2 separate regions of the Homo sapiens genome follow, and region 1 is linked to region 2. A link means that fine-mapping ties the variant in region 2 to the expression of a gene that starts in the linked region. Tissue or cell type: thyroid. Region 2 holds a variant in brackets; the other region holds the start of a gene. All regions are shown on one strand. Distances are between the middles of the regions.

Evidence for each region. PIP is the estimated chance that this variant, and not a neighbour inherited with it, causes the effect.
Region 1: KCNJ2-AS1 starts here. The variant in region 2 is fine-mapped to the expression of KCNJ2-AS1 in thyroid (GTEx, PIP 0.99).

What each region holds. Positions count from the first base shown.
Region 1 is chr17:70,164,823-70,173,010 of GRCh38, forward strand. It overlaps KCNJ2-AS1 (KCNJ2 antisense RNA 1), which reads right to left and starts at 4,580. Exons shown (of 1, transcript NR_036534.1): 1 at 2,139-4,580. It overlaps KCNJ2 (potassium inwardly rectifying channel subfamily J member 2), which reads left to right and starts at 4,710. Exons shown (of 2, transcript NM_000891.3): 1 at 4,710-4,879. RefSeq lists a silencer at 4,306-4,765.
Region 2 is chr17:70,072,028-70,080,215 of GRCh38, forward strand. KCNJ16 (potassium inwardly rectifying channel subfamily J member 16) reads left to right here and starts at 3,198. Exons shown (of 4, transcript NM_170741.4): 1 at 3,198-3,363. It overlaps LOC105371881 (a long non-coding RNA gene), which reads right to left and starts at 2,780. Exons shown (of 3, transcript XR_934952.3): 1 at 1,199-2,780. The variant C/T (reference allele first, on the strand shown) is at 3,179.

The DNA of each region.
Region 1 (8,188 bases), 93 kb after region 2:
ATGACGTGCACTTACGGCAAGGCTACCTGATCTAAGGAACTGCCATCCGTGGTTATAGAGGGTAAACCGAGGCTGTAAACTCATTACCTTTGGGAGACCTAATGTATCCCAGAAAACACAGATGAAATGATCATTGTAATCACTGAATCAAGAAACATAGTAATGTAGGGTCTGGCCCTAAAATGAATATGGTATTTTCAGAGTGTAATTGTCTCACTCATGTGAGATAAATGAAGTCTTCCAGAGCATGACAGAATAGGTAATTTACTAAATAATAACATGGAGGCTCTGGAAGTGTGAGCTTCTTAAAGAACAGCCCCACTTATTGATTTTGGTTTTAACATATTTGATGGAAAATAAAGGTCATAATAATAAACGGATAAAGTAAGCACTGAAATATTTTCTCAATACATCAGTACATGATTTTATGTGTACATATAAACATATGGATAGTTGCAAACACGCGGGTATCTCACTTACTCAGAAGTTTTCCTCAGCTATTTATAACAGCAAATACAAAGACTAAGCCATTTAAATGCTCTGAGAAGCAAAATAGATGCCATAAATCCAAATCCTGAAGCTTTTTTACCCAAAAAGGAGGTTGACCAAGCGAAGGTAACTCCAAATTCAGCATCTGCTCATACTATTTCAAAAATGCATCTTTAGATATGTTAAATCATATTTGCTTGTACATTACTTTAGCAACCTTGGTTACATAATTTATCAGCCCAGCACAGATTAGAATCAACAAATTAGGCAGAGCATGGTGACAGTCTGACAGATTCAAGGCACATTATCAGAAGCAAAAATGAGAACGGAAGGCTCACATTGATGGAGAAGGGAAAACAAGCAGAAGGGCTTAAATAAGCTTAGTCTAGGGTCATTTAATGCAGGAGAAAAGGCTCTACTGTAACCTGATAGGCCTACTGTATTGCAGGTAAAAAATGAAATAGCTTATGTTTATTATAATCATATTGAGTAATCATCAAAAGTTATACTAAAACATACTGTTCCTTTCATTCATTTCCATGTAACTGACATTTATTCTTAGAAACAACTTATAATTCATATGCTTGATTACCTGTATATAGAAAGGTCTGGGGCATAGCAGGCATTTAAGAAATTAACTGAATGAGGAGCCACTCCTATCTTCTGACGTGTTCTCAGCATCCTTAATACCACTACACATAGTAATATGTCATATGTATTAAATCTTCCATTACAAAGTCTTACCCTGCTTCATTCCATTCTTCAAAATCTAAGATTATCGTTTTATTTGTTGCTTGATCCATTTTAGTGCATAATCATAAGCTGCCTTATATTGTTGTTTAATCATTTAAATGTTTCACTTCTGCCTTGTTCATCTTCTCAGTTAGACATTTTGAACTCTTAAGAAGAGGAATTACTCCCGCTAGGACACTTCTGTCTTTCATCTCACCTAGCATATAGCCAAAGTACAACGTAGTTATTTCAACAAATACGTTCACTGAATTTAAAAATATGAAGATTAAATATTATCAATGCAGTAAGTGAAACTAAAGGCCAAAACTGTTTTCCAATAAATAAGATTACATACAGTGCCTTAAAATACCACAGTAAGTGGCTTGTTCTCATAGCAGCAGATTGCAAACTCAGCCTGTCTACATTTCCGGGCAATCTGACAATGATTTATTTACTATTTATTGCTAATGATGATTACTTTGAAGATTAGAAAGTGGTTTTTAATATCCAGTGGATACAAATGCCAGGAGCGTTTGATGTTTTACCATTGTGAATTTGAACTGCATATACATGGTTAATGTAAGTCTGAAAGTATGTCTAATTGTTGGGGATCTTTATATAAATGCAAAGGAAAGATCTGTGCTTCTAGTGAAACAATCACCTTCTGCGTCACACAGCTATTCACAATCTGACTGCAGATCCAGATTGTGACTAATATTTGGCTCTAATATTATAGGTGGTTACCGTGGAGAGAATCAGTAAGAGCATAATTGTCATTTCCTTGGAAAAATTTAATCCACAGATGGATCCCAACACCCAATTGCATTCGTGTCCAAGACTAATGGGGATTTTTGCTAAATAAGGCCTGATTCAGCCAAAAAAGATAGACTCTGAATACAGAAATCTGCATCACGCATCACTTCAAAAGATGTATTAAATCAAACACTGAAAGCATTGGCACACAGAATTTTCCTAATAGGGACATGATGAAAAGTCATTTATTAATTAAAATGCATTTATATTTTCTTTTTTTAAAATGAAGCAATGGGGGTATTCTACGCTACCATACATTTACAAAATTTCATTTGCAAAATTTCATCCTTCATACTTCCTTATTTAGCTAATTAAGGTAATGATTCTACTTAGATTGGAAAGTTCTAATTAAAATCATTAATTTTTCCCGAACCTTCTCCTTCAAGATCTAAGCTTTGCTGCACATCCTTCAGTCTTTGGGAGGAGAGAATGTTGGGGGATGTGCTGCTGATAATTGATGAGAGAGAGCAGGATACATTTATTATGACCTTCCTCCCGCTGCCCAGCTAAATTTATACAGCCAACCATAATCTAATAACTCTGTGTTCCTTTCTTTAAAGATTTTCCTATCATATGAAACTATTTCGGCCTGTGGTGTATTCTTTCTAATTAGAGTAGAATACTAAAGCAAAACCATTTCAATCCAAGTTGCATAAAAATGCCATCCCTTTCCGAGTGACTGGTTTTCAAAGCGAGCTCATTACCTGGAAAAACAACAACAACAAAAGTGTTGCCTCTCTGAATTCACGTGGTTTGGAAAATTCTTAGCCATCTACAGATGCACCAACTGAATCATAATAAAGAAGAGAAAATCTATAAATGATTAATTTCCTTTTTCTATTTAGGCTTAACATGTTTTAAGGGATAATTAAACTTTTGGCCTGTTTCTTAGAAGTCCAGGAGGAAGCATATTTCAGAAGAAGCTTATTGAACTGAGCGGTGAACTCATTCATTATCCTTTGGTTAATACAGAGTGAACTTGTCTACCCTCAGGTTCATTTAGCTTTAGGCTACAGCCTAGATTCTTAGACATCCGTCTATTTTACAGTATTAATTCAAGCTGTTTATAAATAACACATGACTAAATAGATGTTAAAGAAGACCTCCCTTGGGGCAGGCATTATTCCCACGTGCATGGCAACAGAGTTCGTAACAGGGCTTGGTGAACAGTATAATCTCAACACATTAACTGGGACCACATCGCCATTTGGCTATCAGAGCAGCCACACCGAGTGCATCATCTCTTGCACACCCTTTTAATTTAAGTACCTTGCTCAGTGCTAAGAAAAAAGGCACACTTGTTAAGGCAGGAGTAAGTGCGGATCTGCGAAACCTAAGCAAGCATATTTCACCAGCACCTCCTAGGGGCCACGTGTGGATATGAGGATGGGAGGTGGGGACTCGCACAGAACCTTTCCTTGAATTGTCAGTTTCACCTCTCCTACACACAAAAATCCACCCCGACTGCGCCGTCCACAATACCAGCTAGTTTGCTGAATTAGTTCAGCGACTCAAGGAGGCCTTACGAGGTTTAAATAAACTGCACAAAAGACACATTTGATCGCTCGAGAAAATAAACATTTAAAAAACTCAGTGGAAAGAAAGACTCCTAAAATATATCCTGTCCTTTAGGAGCAAAGCTTCGTTAGGACACCGAAGTACTCAGAAATAATAGGCACTTACTCTTCGGTTTACACACACACACACACACACACACACGGATTAGTTTATAAAGTTCCAGGATCCAGACCCGGTTAACACTGAAGTTGCTTTTTAGGGGTCTGCGCGCTCTCGCCTGGCTGCTGGGAAGGAGGGCTGGGAGGCGCTGAAGCGAGGGCAGATCTGAGTGTCTGTAGGAGTTGCTATTCCAAAAAAAATCATTACTCTCTAATTGTTCTGATTTTAGATCAGCAAAGCGTGCCGGGCGGTGGTGGAGAGACTGAGGGCGGACAAGGCGAGAGGGAACGAGCCGTCCACCCTTCGGAGAAGCCTAGGCGCCTTGTAAGTAATTCGCGAACAGTCGGGAGAACAAACAGCCAAGCGGCGCTGCAGTGGCCGCACTTGCGCGCGTCTCAATCCTGGGGGCTCTGCGCGCCCGCCCCAGTCCCTCGCCCCATTGACTCAGTGGCTTCTCCGGGCGCTGCAGCCTCCGCGGGGGGCTTCGAAGGGCCGAGGGGCTCCGGCAGAGAGGGAGTGGAGAGGGAGACGCGCCGGGACCGACGAACAATCCTGCCCCTGCGGCAAAGGTCTCTACCCGGCGCTGGCACCTCGCAGGCCCCTCGAGGAGCACGCAGGGCAAGCGGCCCAAGAGCGGGGGAACCGGGAAGTGTGTGGGGCTCCAGACGGAGTAGGAAGCTTTGCCCAAGGCCAGGCTGCAATCAGGCAGCCGCAACAGCCGGGCGCGGAGCTTCCCACCTGCTGCTGTCCCAGCTGGGCCGCAACTTCCTCCTCCCCGGCCCGGGCCCGACTCCCCGGCCGGGCTCCGAGGGTGGAGGGGGACGAGGCGGCGGCAGGTTCCCTCCGCTGGCAACGCCTCGCAGCATCCTCCCCTCCCCGCCGCGGTTCCCGGGGCCGGCCGCGCGGCCAGGCGCGCTGCGATTGGCCGGCAGCGGCCGGGGGCGGGGCCAGGAGAGCCGGTGTCGCACGGACCGCCTCAAAAGAGCCCAGGATATTGCAGAGCGCACTGGAGCCCTGGCCAGCGCGCAGCCTTCCCGGCGCCGGCGGGCTGGGTCTTGGGAATTCTGGTTTGCTTTGGCTCACTCGCTTTTTACAAACCACTGGATCTTACATGCCTCTGTACCCCCCACTTCCACTCCATGTCCCCATGCTCCTGCGCCAGCAACAGGTAAGGGCTGCTGTGTTTTCTTCCTTTTCGCTCGCTGCCGGTGTGTCCTGGGGAATGGACTCTGGCCGCCGTCCCCTACCCTACCCTGCCCCGCTGCTCCAGAGGTGCCCAGCTGTCACACTGCTGTAGCGCTCACCCACACTCCGGAGTCCCAGATCATGCCTATATAGTTTGTGTGCGCACCAGAACATCCCCAGAGCTAAAAATACTGAGACATGCTTGGAACAGTTGAGCAATAGAAACAGATTTCTCTGCAGCATCTGTTTGTGCTCATAACTTCCAATGCACCAGCTGTAGCGAGATACTGGGTTTGGAGGCAAGGGCGAGAGCGTCTGTGTTCGGTTCTCACTCTAAGTGGGGAAAAAAAGAAAGAAAACGTGGTTGCGGGTTTGGGGGTGCGTCTTGAGCCCTGGTCTTAAACCTTGGCAAAGCTTGGGACTCAGCACTATTCTTGATCCTTGGCTTTTTTTTTTTTTCGTCATTGCTTCAAGTATAGCTGTGAGTTTCAAACAGAGTGAGTGTCTCAAAGTTGCCTTCCTGAAAGAAGAGCGGGAGCCCGAGTTGGATTTGAGCCTGAGGATCGCAAAACTTTCACATTACATATCACTCTCCCCTAACCAATTTGTTATTTTCAGTAATAATGGTATTAATACCTGGCTTGAAGACAGTGTGGTTTTAGGAAAGCAAAATAGTCAAAACGACTTGATTCTGCAAAAAGATTGCATCATAGCGTGGATTCATCATGACAATTGGAAAAAAAATAGGGATAGGGAATGGGCAGTTTAATGTCTGTGTCTGGGTAAGGATATCATAGGATGATCACTAGGATAAAAGGCTGTGAATTCCGACGATTTTCATAAATTCAGATTTTACCTGTTAGGAAATAAGGTGTTATTTGAAAACCTCGGATATGCAAAGAAACCATATTGCGTTTTATCATTTGTTTTCTTTTCACATTAATAATCAATAGGCTGCCAGATTTCCTCTCGCCAACCAATGTTGTGTGTCTGCTGTACATTATCTGTACACTTGTTAGCGTTTTCCTGCTCACTTCCAAATGTTTCATTTCTATTTGCCATTATCTGGAAAAATCCTGGTGCTCAGAAGGGGTAAGAGATGTTAATTGAAGCATGGTGGAAAGGGTGAGGATAAGGTCAAGGCCATTTTACTTAGCTTCCTCCTCTCTCATATTTTAATGACACTTTATTTTTTAATGTTCTTGGTCTCCATAAGAAATATTTGATCTAAACTCATGTGAATTTTGCTTTTAAAAAAAATAAAAGAACACAGTCTTTCTACATCCTTTGGATTCCTGAGTTGTAGAATCTCTGGTTAGCTGTAGCGTCCTTGTATGACTTTTGCGTAGCCTGAAAGATTGAAAACAGCTACCTGCACAGATTAAGTGTTTCAGATTTTTTTAAGTGTATATTTTTATTTACCAAACATGTCTGTTTTTCAGCGTATGCAAATGCTGAGCAGTGCTACAAGCCAAGTGTCGTTGAGTATAAATGTTAGACAGGGGGCTCACACGTAGATAGATGGGTATCCCCCTCCCCTCCCCACTTCCCCCTCCTCCTCCCTCATGTTTATTGAGCTTCTAAGAGGCTGCTTTCCTAGCAGTTGTGCTCACATAGCAACATGTGCCCAGAGCACACTCAGGCTGTTCTATATGGCGTCAGCTGGGGAATAGCTGCTCTAAACACTCATTAGCAGACCTCTCTCTCAGCCCAGTACGTTTTCTTTTGCTATCTTTATTTCCTATCCTTAGAAACTTTCTTATTTATTGCACACCATGACCATATTACAGGACACATTTACTCTCATTTGATTTTTTTTTTTAGTTATTTATAAGCCATATTGGAAGTATTACCTATATAGTCAAAGCAATTTAGATCCCCCATTTGTACCATGTGATCTCCTTGACCTTACATTTATCCATAGCTCTTTCTCCTTTAACATCTACCTAAGTTTAAAACGCTGAACTATTTTTTTCCATTGCTTATGCTTAATTTTGGCTCAGCCTATAAATAGTCTTAACATGAACAGCACCACATGTAACCTCTCAATTTCCCAAAAATACTTTCTACATCATGGGTTATGGCCTGGATAAAAATGATTATTTGTGTCCATGAAATTTACATCTAGACCCTTAAATATTTTGGCTGGAAGGGAGATTTACACATTGTTCATCAAATCAAATTTCAATTCTCTGGATTTGTATCACTTAGTGTTCTCATCTACTCCTCATTGATTGCATCTCAAACATTATTTTGAATATATGCTTGAAATAAAGTTGCATGTAAGCCCTGTTTTTTTAATGATAGCTTTTCTCAGCTGCTCACGAATTGGTAATTGCTAGTGAGAGGACCGGGCAAGGAAGTTTTCTGCTTGCTTAAAGTCGCTCAGGCATGTGGGCAGGTTAACAGTAAAAGCAATTTTTACCATGAAATATTAAGACCGTTACCCCATCAAACCTTGACAGGTTCTAGACTTTAGCTATGTAATCAGCTCCACAAAAAGTCTGCATACATATATGTGTGTGCACCTGCATACACACATAAATCTGTTTGGGGGCATATCTATTTAAAGTGGCAAAAGTTTTCTTTTTGCCAAAAAAAAAAAAAAAAAAAAAAAAAGCCCAAAACTCCTCTTTTTCTCTTTCCAGGAAGAAATGGTAAAATTTCTAAATGATGCTCCACATGTGGAACAAATTCTGTTATTAGCAATGGAAATAAGACAATAATAGTCTCTCAATACAGGCTACTTTCAAGATTCTAAATGTGGAAAGCTATTCATAGGAAGCTGGTATTGTGTGATTTGTGGAATTCAAACAAATGTCCTGGGGTCAAGATTTTTGGAAAGTCATAATTCAGTCTTTAGATTTCATATGGTTGTTATGTTTTAATCTGGAAGGAGTACAGAAATAAGTCAGAAGAAATTTGAGACTGTCTACTCATGGCCCCTAATGGTAACTCACATGGAAGGATTGTTTTGAATCATGAAAAGGGAATTTCTTGGTGTCAGCTTATAATACAAAGTTCTGAAGTCAATCAGAACTCAAAAATACAAAGCATTCATTGAATGAAGTTCTTCTCCTTTTTTTGAAACGTATACCTGCGTTTGGTGTTGTTGCTGTCTCTGTCTGTTTAGTAATGTGAGAAAACTAAGATGAAATAATTGCTTAAAAAATGCTGTCCATGTACAGGATCTAGAACTTCGAGGGGCAGGATTCTTGTTTCTTTGGTCCAAGTGCAAACTTCACAGGGAAGCAGACAAAACATTGAAGCAGGTGGAAGGTTAGGAAAGCAC
Region 2 (8,188 bases):
GCACAACCTAGTAATGCTGCAGTATCTGGGCAGCAAGAGGGTCTTGCGACTCAGGAGAGATGGACGATGGACAGTGATAGGGAAGCTCATTAAGAAAGTAAACTGAAGAAAAAGGTAAAGAAACCTTTAAAAGACAAACAGTTTTATTTTCCTAATATGCTTGTTTGCTTAATTCAGAAAAGCATTCATCCCTCAGTATTAGTATTAGTATCAGTACTGAATTCTAGCTTTCTGTTAGTCACTTGGTTGGACTCAAAGATGAATGAGGGAGTCAAGCACAATGACACATGCCTATAGTCCCAGCTACTTCGGAGGCTGAGGCGGGAGGATTGCCTGAGTCCAGGAGTTTGAGACCAGCCTGGACAACATAGGAAAACCCCATCTGAAAACACACAAAAATTAAAAATTAAAAAAAAAAAGATGAGTAAGATTCAGTAAGTTCCTAACCACAAATATTTAGAATTTAGTAGAGGAAATAAGACATGCAACTAAAAGCTAAAATATATAGATTGAAAAACATCGTGCCTTTAAAGAGTATTATTCTTTTATTATTATTAATTTTGAAATAAACTATTTATTGATATTTATAGTAGGCAAGGAAAGACTTAGTAAAAGGAATATTGAAGGAAAGATAGGATTTTAAGTCATAGAAATGCAGTTGACTTGGACTTAACCGTGAGAGGAAAATCATTAATCAGAAAAGAGGAACATTACTTTTGGAGAAGAGTAAATTTTACGGCTTAGCTAGTTTTGTTTTTGTTTTTTTTTTCTGTAAAGGGCCAGATACAAAATATTTTAGGCTTTAAGGACCACAGTCTCTGTTGAGGTCTTGAAGGTCACTGAATTCTGTTGTGTAATATGATGCCTTCATTGACAGTAAGTAAAAAAATAGGGATAGGCATATTTACCAATAAACATGATTTACAGACATAGAAATGTGAATTTCACATCATTTTCATGTCACAAATATTAGTTTTCTTTTACTTTTCCCCCGCTATTTATCATTGTAAAAACCATTCTTAGCTGGGAGTCCTTACAAAAACTGGAAGCAAGCCACAGTCTTCCAGTGACGGAGCTAGAGTGTTCTCTCTAACAAGTAACCCCTTTGTACAATGTAACTTCCTCTTAGGCCAATACTAAAATCACAGAACAGCAATACATTACAGATTTTTGAAAGAGATAATTATTTATCACTTACATTCAAGTAACAAATTCTTGTAATTTGACAAATCTTGAACATGCCTCCTCAACTTGCCTCAGTTTGTCTTTCTGTTTGGGGGAGGATTAAAGTTCACAAAAGTTGAACTTCAATGAAGTTAATTATCAGTTAAGGTAGACTGAGGAGGCAGAGACATGTAACAGAAAAGCCAATCCAGATATCATTTTTATTTATTTGGCTTTAGAAAGTGTTTTTCTACTTACATGTGAGTATGGGTGTGTCTGATATTCTGGGAATTTACTTCAAACAAAGGAATGAAGCCACGCAATGGCGATCTGACTCAGCTGGAGTTGGGAATCCATCTAGTTTCCCCATCTTGCCTCCCGTCTTGCTCTTCTCCATGGTCTGTTTTTACGCTGTGTTTAGATGCCTCGTCTTCTCAGATCAATCTAAATGCTCACCCACATAAAATCACCTTTCCTGAAATTGTATTTGCAGAGCAGATGGAGTCCTGTCCATTTTTGCGTGTGTGTTTTTTTTAAGTCTTTTGAGATAGAACTCTAACAAAGTGTGCTCTGCTTTCAAACAAGGCAGTAATTGAGCAGCATTAAGTGATAATATTGAACAACATCATGGATAAACCACAATGAGAGTTGCTGCAATTGTTATGGAAATGTAGGCATTTGTTTAGTCTTCAATTTTTTTTTTTAACAGAAAAGGCAACCTCTGCATTCACTGCTTACCTGAGATTTATGGATGAATGAAAAGATAGGTCCCTTGGAGAGTTCAAACTCTTCTGCAGATATTGTGTAACAGATTGCAAAATAGGTCTTCCTATCAGAATATGTATACCTTAGTGACAGCTATGAGTTTGGAACACGAATTATCTATCTGTGGTAGGTGTTGTCGTTGTTGCTATTATCATCCCCATTTGACAGTTGAGAAAATGGAGTTGCAGAAAGGTTAAGCAGTTTCTCAGTGTCACACAGCTAGTAAGTGGCGGTGCCAACATAGAAGTCCACTTCCTCAAGTGTTCATGCTTTTAAAAATGGAAACAAAACTCTAACAACCGTCAAACAGCAACGATTGTCAGAACCTAGAAAAGGCCTCTTAAATTTGCAGTGTTAACCAAGCCTGATGTGGTTCCCTAGATCCCCTGGCTGCCACCGCTCTGTGAAGCAAAGGAAAAACTAATTCCTTGCTAGCATAACACTTCTATTGAGCATTCCTGGACACAACTCCCCCAGGTTCTGAAGAGCCTAGGGTTGCTATTTGTTTAGTTCCCCATGGCTGCTTTTCACATTTTCTGGATCTTTCTCTTGATTCTAGCATTATAAGTCTACCTCTTCCCTGATCACTCACTTTTCTACCTCCTGGAGAGCACTGACCACGGGATCACCTCACCATTTTATTTAACCCATTAGGACTCAATGCCAGGCAAAACCTATACCACAGCCTGCATTGTATTCACCATCTCAGGCTCGAGCTCTGATTCCTGGGGTTGAGGAAAGGAAGACTTTCCAACCCCAATTTCTGCCATCCATGTTGATTAGTCAGAGGGCTAATCAACTGTGAACTCATGTTCTTTGGAACTAGGCAGCACAGGAAAAATAATCATTAAAGGTTTGGTAAATAAAAGACTGAATGGATGCTTAGCTACCTGTCATTATCCTGTCTCGCTTTTCGTCAGCATGCAATCCCAATCCTCAGCTGTTAAGATGTAGACAAAGAGTTCTGATGAAAGGGATTTATTTGTACTATTCCAACAGAGTCTGAAAACTAGCAGGAGCATTTCCATAGGTCGTCTCTCAACAATCCTGTCTGTAAATATTTGAGTCACTTACAGGCATTGTTGAGCATAGTTCTGGCCCAGCAAATCTTCCTCCTTTGTATCCCTGATCAAGTAAAAACTTAGTCAGGATATACTTGGGTGACCTTCACACTGTACCTCCTCCAGAGGTACAGAGGTGGTGACGTAATCACTGCCACAGCTGACTGGCTATGGCTTGCTTGATAAGA[C/T]GCCAGGGGCTACCTATGTAGATTCCCAGGGAGGAACTGTAGGAACAAACCGGTGTCAATGGTTAACCCAGGTTCTTGGTGTCTGGAGCTTTTCTTTCCTTTATTATTAACTAAAGAGCATTCTCTACCATTGCCCAGCTGAAAGCACCTAGCTCATAGATTCTCTGTGGGGAGAGTGAATAAAGGTAAGTGCTATTATTGCTATGGATACAATGTCATTCAGCCTATGTTTTGCTCTTGCTGGCATCTGTGTTTGGGGAGCAGCAACACTCTGTTTCCAGCAAACGTAAATATTAATGATCAATTAAATGCAATTAAGATAATTTAATTTTTTATCCAAGTGCTTTAAGTAGGAATCAAACAGTGTGTCATATTCCTTAAGTTATTTTGAAGCTTTGGTTAAAAGTAGTCTCACATTGGTGTTTACAGAGTCTGTTAAACAGCCCTTGCCTGCTATTATATTTGTAAATGTCTAAAAGTGGCTTTATTATATTCATACCACATGGAGTATTCTGCAATGTCTTTCAAAACCAGATTTTTGCATCCTGTATGCACTTATGAACATATAATTGCAAATATTGAAAAATATGTATTTTATACCCCCCTCTTAAAAAGCTCAGAGAAAATACACGTTAACTTTTTTTTATAGTTGTCTATAATCATTGAAAGGAAATAAGAGATCTATTTTTTCTAGATTTATTTTAACATAAATTGAAAGTGAAGAATTTTCTCCTTTTGTTTTCACCTTAATCCCTCTAAAGCTTTTTTTTTTTTCTTATCATTTAAAAATCTTAAAATTTTGTTTTGAGTATTTAGTCAGAAAAGTGTGAGCTTGTAAAACTTTGCTCTCTGGATGCCACGAATTCTCTGACATATATAATTGAACAGTTTTCCTTGTTGGTATATTTAGGTAGTAAACAATAACATTTCTATAAGCCAGATGAATTTTGATCATGTGTATTACATGGACTGAATGGTCTTTAGAAAAAGAGTATTGGAGTATTTCTGCTAAATATTACTCTTATGGCTAGTAAGAGCCAGATCCTGAAGAAGAAAAAAATGTATGAATGCACCTTTGTTACTTTAGTATGGGAAATGTAGACTAGCCACTCTTTATGTCAGATTTTAACCAATAAAGGAACATGAAGTACCCAAACCACAGCTGTTTTGCAGAATACATTTAAGGAATTCCTGAAATTCAGCCAAAAAGAATTTAAAAGTGAACAAGGTCCAGAGTTCAATTCAAATCAAAAGAGAGAGAAAGAGAAAGAGAGCCTGAGTAACTTAGAGATGTAATCCTGCTTGTTTATTTTTAGAACACGATAATTGTGATAAATCTAAGATTATTAGTCTCATATACAACAAGACTGACAACCTTTGAAACTGCAAGAAAAGACTGCTTTGGGAGAGGAATTCAATATTCTATTTTAATGCATTTTTCTCAACAAGAATTTCAGCATGAGAGAGAACAAGAGTCTTCAAGGATATTGAAAAATATATGTTTCTTCTATTATATAGATTAGTGGTGAGTACAAGCTAAGACCTGGATATAAATTAATTGAAAATTAGAAATGGAAAAAAAGTATAGTTTGAGGCAAAATATATAAAGGGCATTGAAAGTAAATATTTGGCACCGAAATAATACAGGTATTTTCTTTGTTAAATTAGTAAAACCTACCACTTGTCCTCATACAAGAACTTGAGTTCCAGCATAAGAAGATCATTGGGAGCCATCTTCAAAGCTACCTCCCACCATTTTCCATTTATAAATGGAACTGTCAAAGAAGTCTTCACTAAGGGGGTGATATTTAGCCAAAGACCTGGAGGTGGCAAGGAAGTGAGCAACGTAGAATCCTTGGAGAAGAGCAGTTCAGGCAGATGGAACAGCCCTAAGGCTGAGGTGTGCCTGGCGAGTTAACAAAACAGCAAAGAGGCCAGTGTGGCTGAAGCAAAATTGCAGGAGTGGGAGTAGCAGGGAATACATGAGGTCCTGTAGATGTGCCATAATATTTACCAAGACAGATACGATTCTGCAAGCTACAAGTGTCAGAGAAGGTTTTTGAGATGTTAGAAAAGACCATGGGAAGCGTAGATTTAGATAAGTGGAGAGACAGTGAGGAGTATTGCGGATGACAGGCTGATGATACAAGTGAACAAAATATAGATGTGAGAATGAGCAGAATTAGCATAAGCATGAGAGCAAATGAAGTTAGGCTCCTCCAGTGTACCCAATGGAGTAAATAAAAAGGTTTCTGAACATCAAGGCTGTGCTGAGGCTAACAATATGCTCACCAACATGAAACTTGTAAGGGAAACACAAATCTCAACACAGAAGCCAGGCCCTCTGTAGCTCAAACCAGATGTTGTCAAGAGACAGGAAATTAAGAAATCTAAGTAAAAGTAGATTTCATGGACAGTAAACAGAATTAGAAGTCTTTCTCCAAATGCCTCTTTCCTGGTTAGGCTGTGTTTTTTTTTTTTGTTTGTTTGTTTTTTCTTGCATTTTAGTGAGTCCATCCATCAGCTTTGGCATCTCCAAATGGCCCCTTTGCTGGAAACCATGGTAATAAGGGCTCATCTTCTGAGATGTCTATGGGAAATGAAAGTAAACTCAAATAGCTGGTTCTTGGTTAAATTTTTCAGGCCCAAGGGCCCAGATTCAGAAAAAAAAAAAAGATAGTTTATCTGAAATGCATTGCATGAAGAATGCTTTCCTATACAAAGACAGTTACATTTTGCTTTCTTAGCTGGTTAGCTTCTGCAGACTGGGAGGAGAACTATTTTTATCATCATGCTTTAGGGCCTATGGACCCTAGGCTTTGTAGTTATTTCACTCTGTTAAACACAAGGGGTGGATGACTTTATTTTTTTGTATAGCTGCTTTTAAATGAAAAAGATAGGATCAGATTTTTTTCCTCACCTTGTTCCAGAAAGTTCTACTCTGAAATCAAGGATCTGGATGCAAAACATAACATTCTAATAGAGGCTTCTCACTATTAAATGCAACTTTTCCCAGTTGCCATGGCTCCACATTCTCCCCCTCCTAAAACTAGATCTGAAACTGCTGACAGGTGTATAAGAAAATTTTAAAAAGTCAATCATCTGGGGAAAAAACAGTCCCAAATTAGATTTATCCAACAACTCCGCATAAAAAAAAGGTGATTTTTACCTTAACATGTTCCAAAAAGATCACCTCCATTCCTAATTTTATTTTCCTTATATGAAAATAGCTTTAGAGACTCCAAATGGTTACATGGCTTCAGATTGTATTTTGTAAGATTTGCTCTCCTTTTAACTGAGAAACAAATATTCAGTTATCTTTTTTATTTTAAGAAAAATGTGTGTTCTAGCAAACATGACCAAAAACACTCTTGTTTTGGTAAATTTTAATTTTTTGTTGTATCCCATTTTAAATCAGAGGCATGTTCTCATGCAATCAATAAACATTTATTAAGTACCACTGTACCGGACAGTCTGGGGACAAAGATAACAAAGATCTGGTCCCTGCCCCCAGCCTGGCAGAAAAAGGCATGTCTGTAAATAATTAAGAGCCATGCAATGGTCCAGCACCATCATAACATAACGTACAATTAGCACACCAACCAATCACACTTTTTTCCAGGAAGGCAAGAGGGATGATAGCCAAGTTTGAGGCAGGTTAATATTGTCCTGCGTGTGCTTGTGGAATTCAGAACTTTTAGACACTGAAATATCATTTTCACTATGAACTCTATTACACGATTTTCCACTGTCAGAAACTCACTCTTAAGAGAACTCAGACAGTTCTCTTAAAATGGTCTTTTTTTCTACTACCGTTTGGTTATTAGTCAAGGATCTCTAGAGAAGCAGAAGAAACAGGATACAGGAGAGCAAGAGGGAGAAAAACACAGAGAGATCTTAAGGAATTGGCTCAAGCGATTATGGTGGCTGGCAAGTATGAAATCTGTAGGGCGGGCTGGTAGAAATTCTAGTAAGAGTTGACATTGCAGTATTGAGTTCAAATCTGCAGAGTATGCCAGAATAGGAAACTTGGATGGCATTTGTATGTTACATTTTTGAAGCAGAACTCCTTTCCCAGGAAATCTTGGCTTTTGCTCTTAAGGGTTGCAACTGATTAGATAAGGCCCACCTACATTATGGAGGATAATAATCTGCTTTTCTCAAAGTCTACAGATGAGAAATGTTCCTCACATCTAATATGTATCTTCCTAGCAATATCCAGACAGGTGTTTGATCAAACAACTGGGTACCATAGCCTAGCCAAGTTGACATATAAAATTAAACATCACAATAACAGAATCCAACTTCATCCTGATTGTCTTTTGCCATCCAGTTATTAGACATTATATGTTTCAAGCTTCCATTTCTCTAAAAGAAATTAAGAATCATACTTTAGTAATCATATAAATATTAAATTTCATAAAATGGATCTGCCTAAAAATACCATCATTTGCATATAGAAGCATCCATTAATTTAGTACAGCATTTTTATTTTATTATTTATTTTTATGTTTTTAGATGGAGTCTCACTCTATTGCCTAGGCTAGAGGGCAGTGGCATGATCTCGGCCCACTGCAACCTCCGCCTCCCAGGTTCAAGCAATTCTCTTGCCTCCGCTTCCCAAGTAGCTGGGATTACAGGCACCCACCACCATGCCTGGCTATTTTTTGTATTTTTAGTAGAGATGGGGTTTCACCATGTTGGCCAGGCTGGTCTCGAACTCCTAGCCTCAAGTAATCCACCCACTTCGGCCTCCCAAAGTGCTGGGATTACAGGCGTGAGCAACCACATCTGGCAGTACAGCATTGTTAATGCTATAGCTTTTTTGTAATGCAACTTGGTTAAAGAGAAAAAGATTTTTTTAAATTGAGGTAAAGAGTAAGTTATTTCTGAGACACTGACAGTGACAGTCCAACCTTCTAATGACATTGCTTCCTCTTCCATTAAAATCACTATCCATATCATATATTTTGGCTGTTACATAATTTCCTCCATGTTTTCATGTAGTTC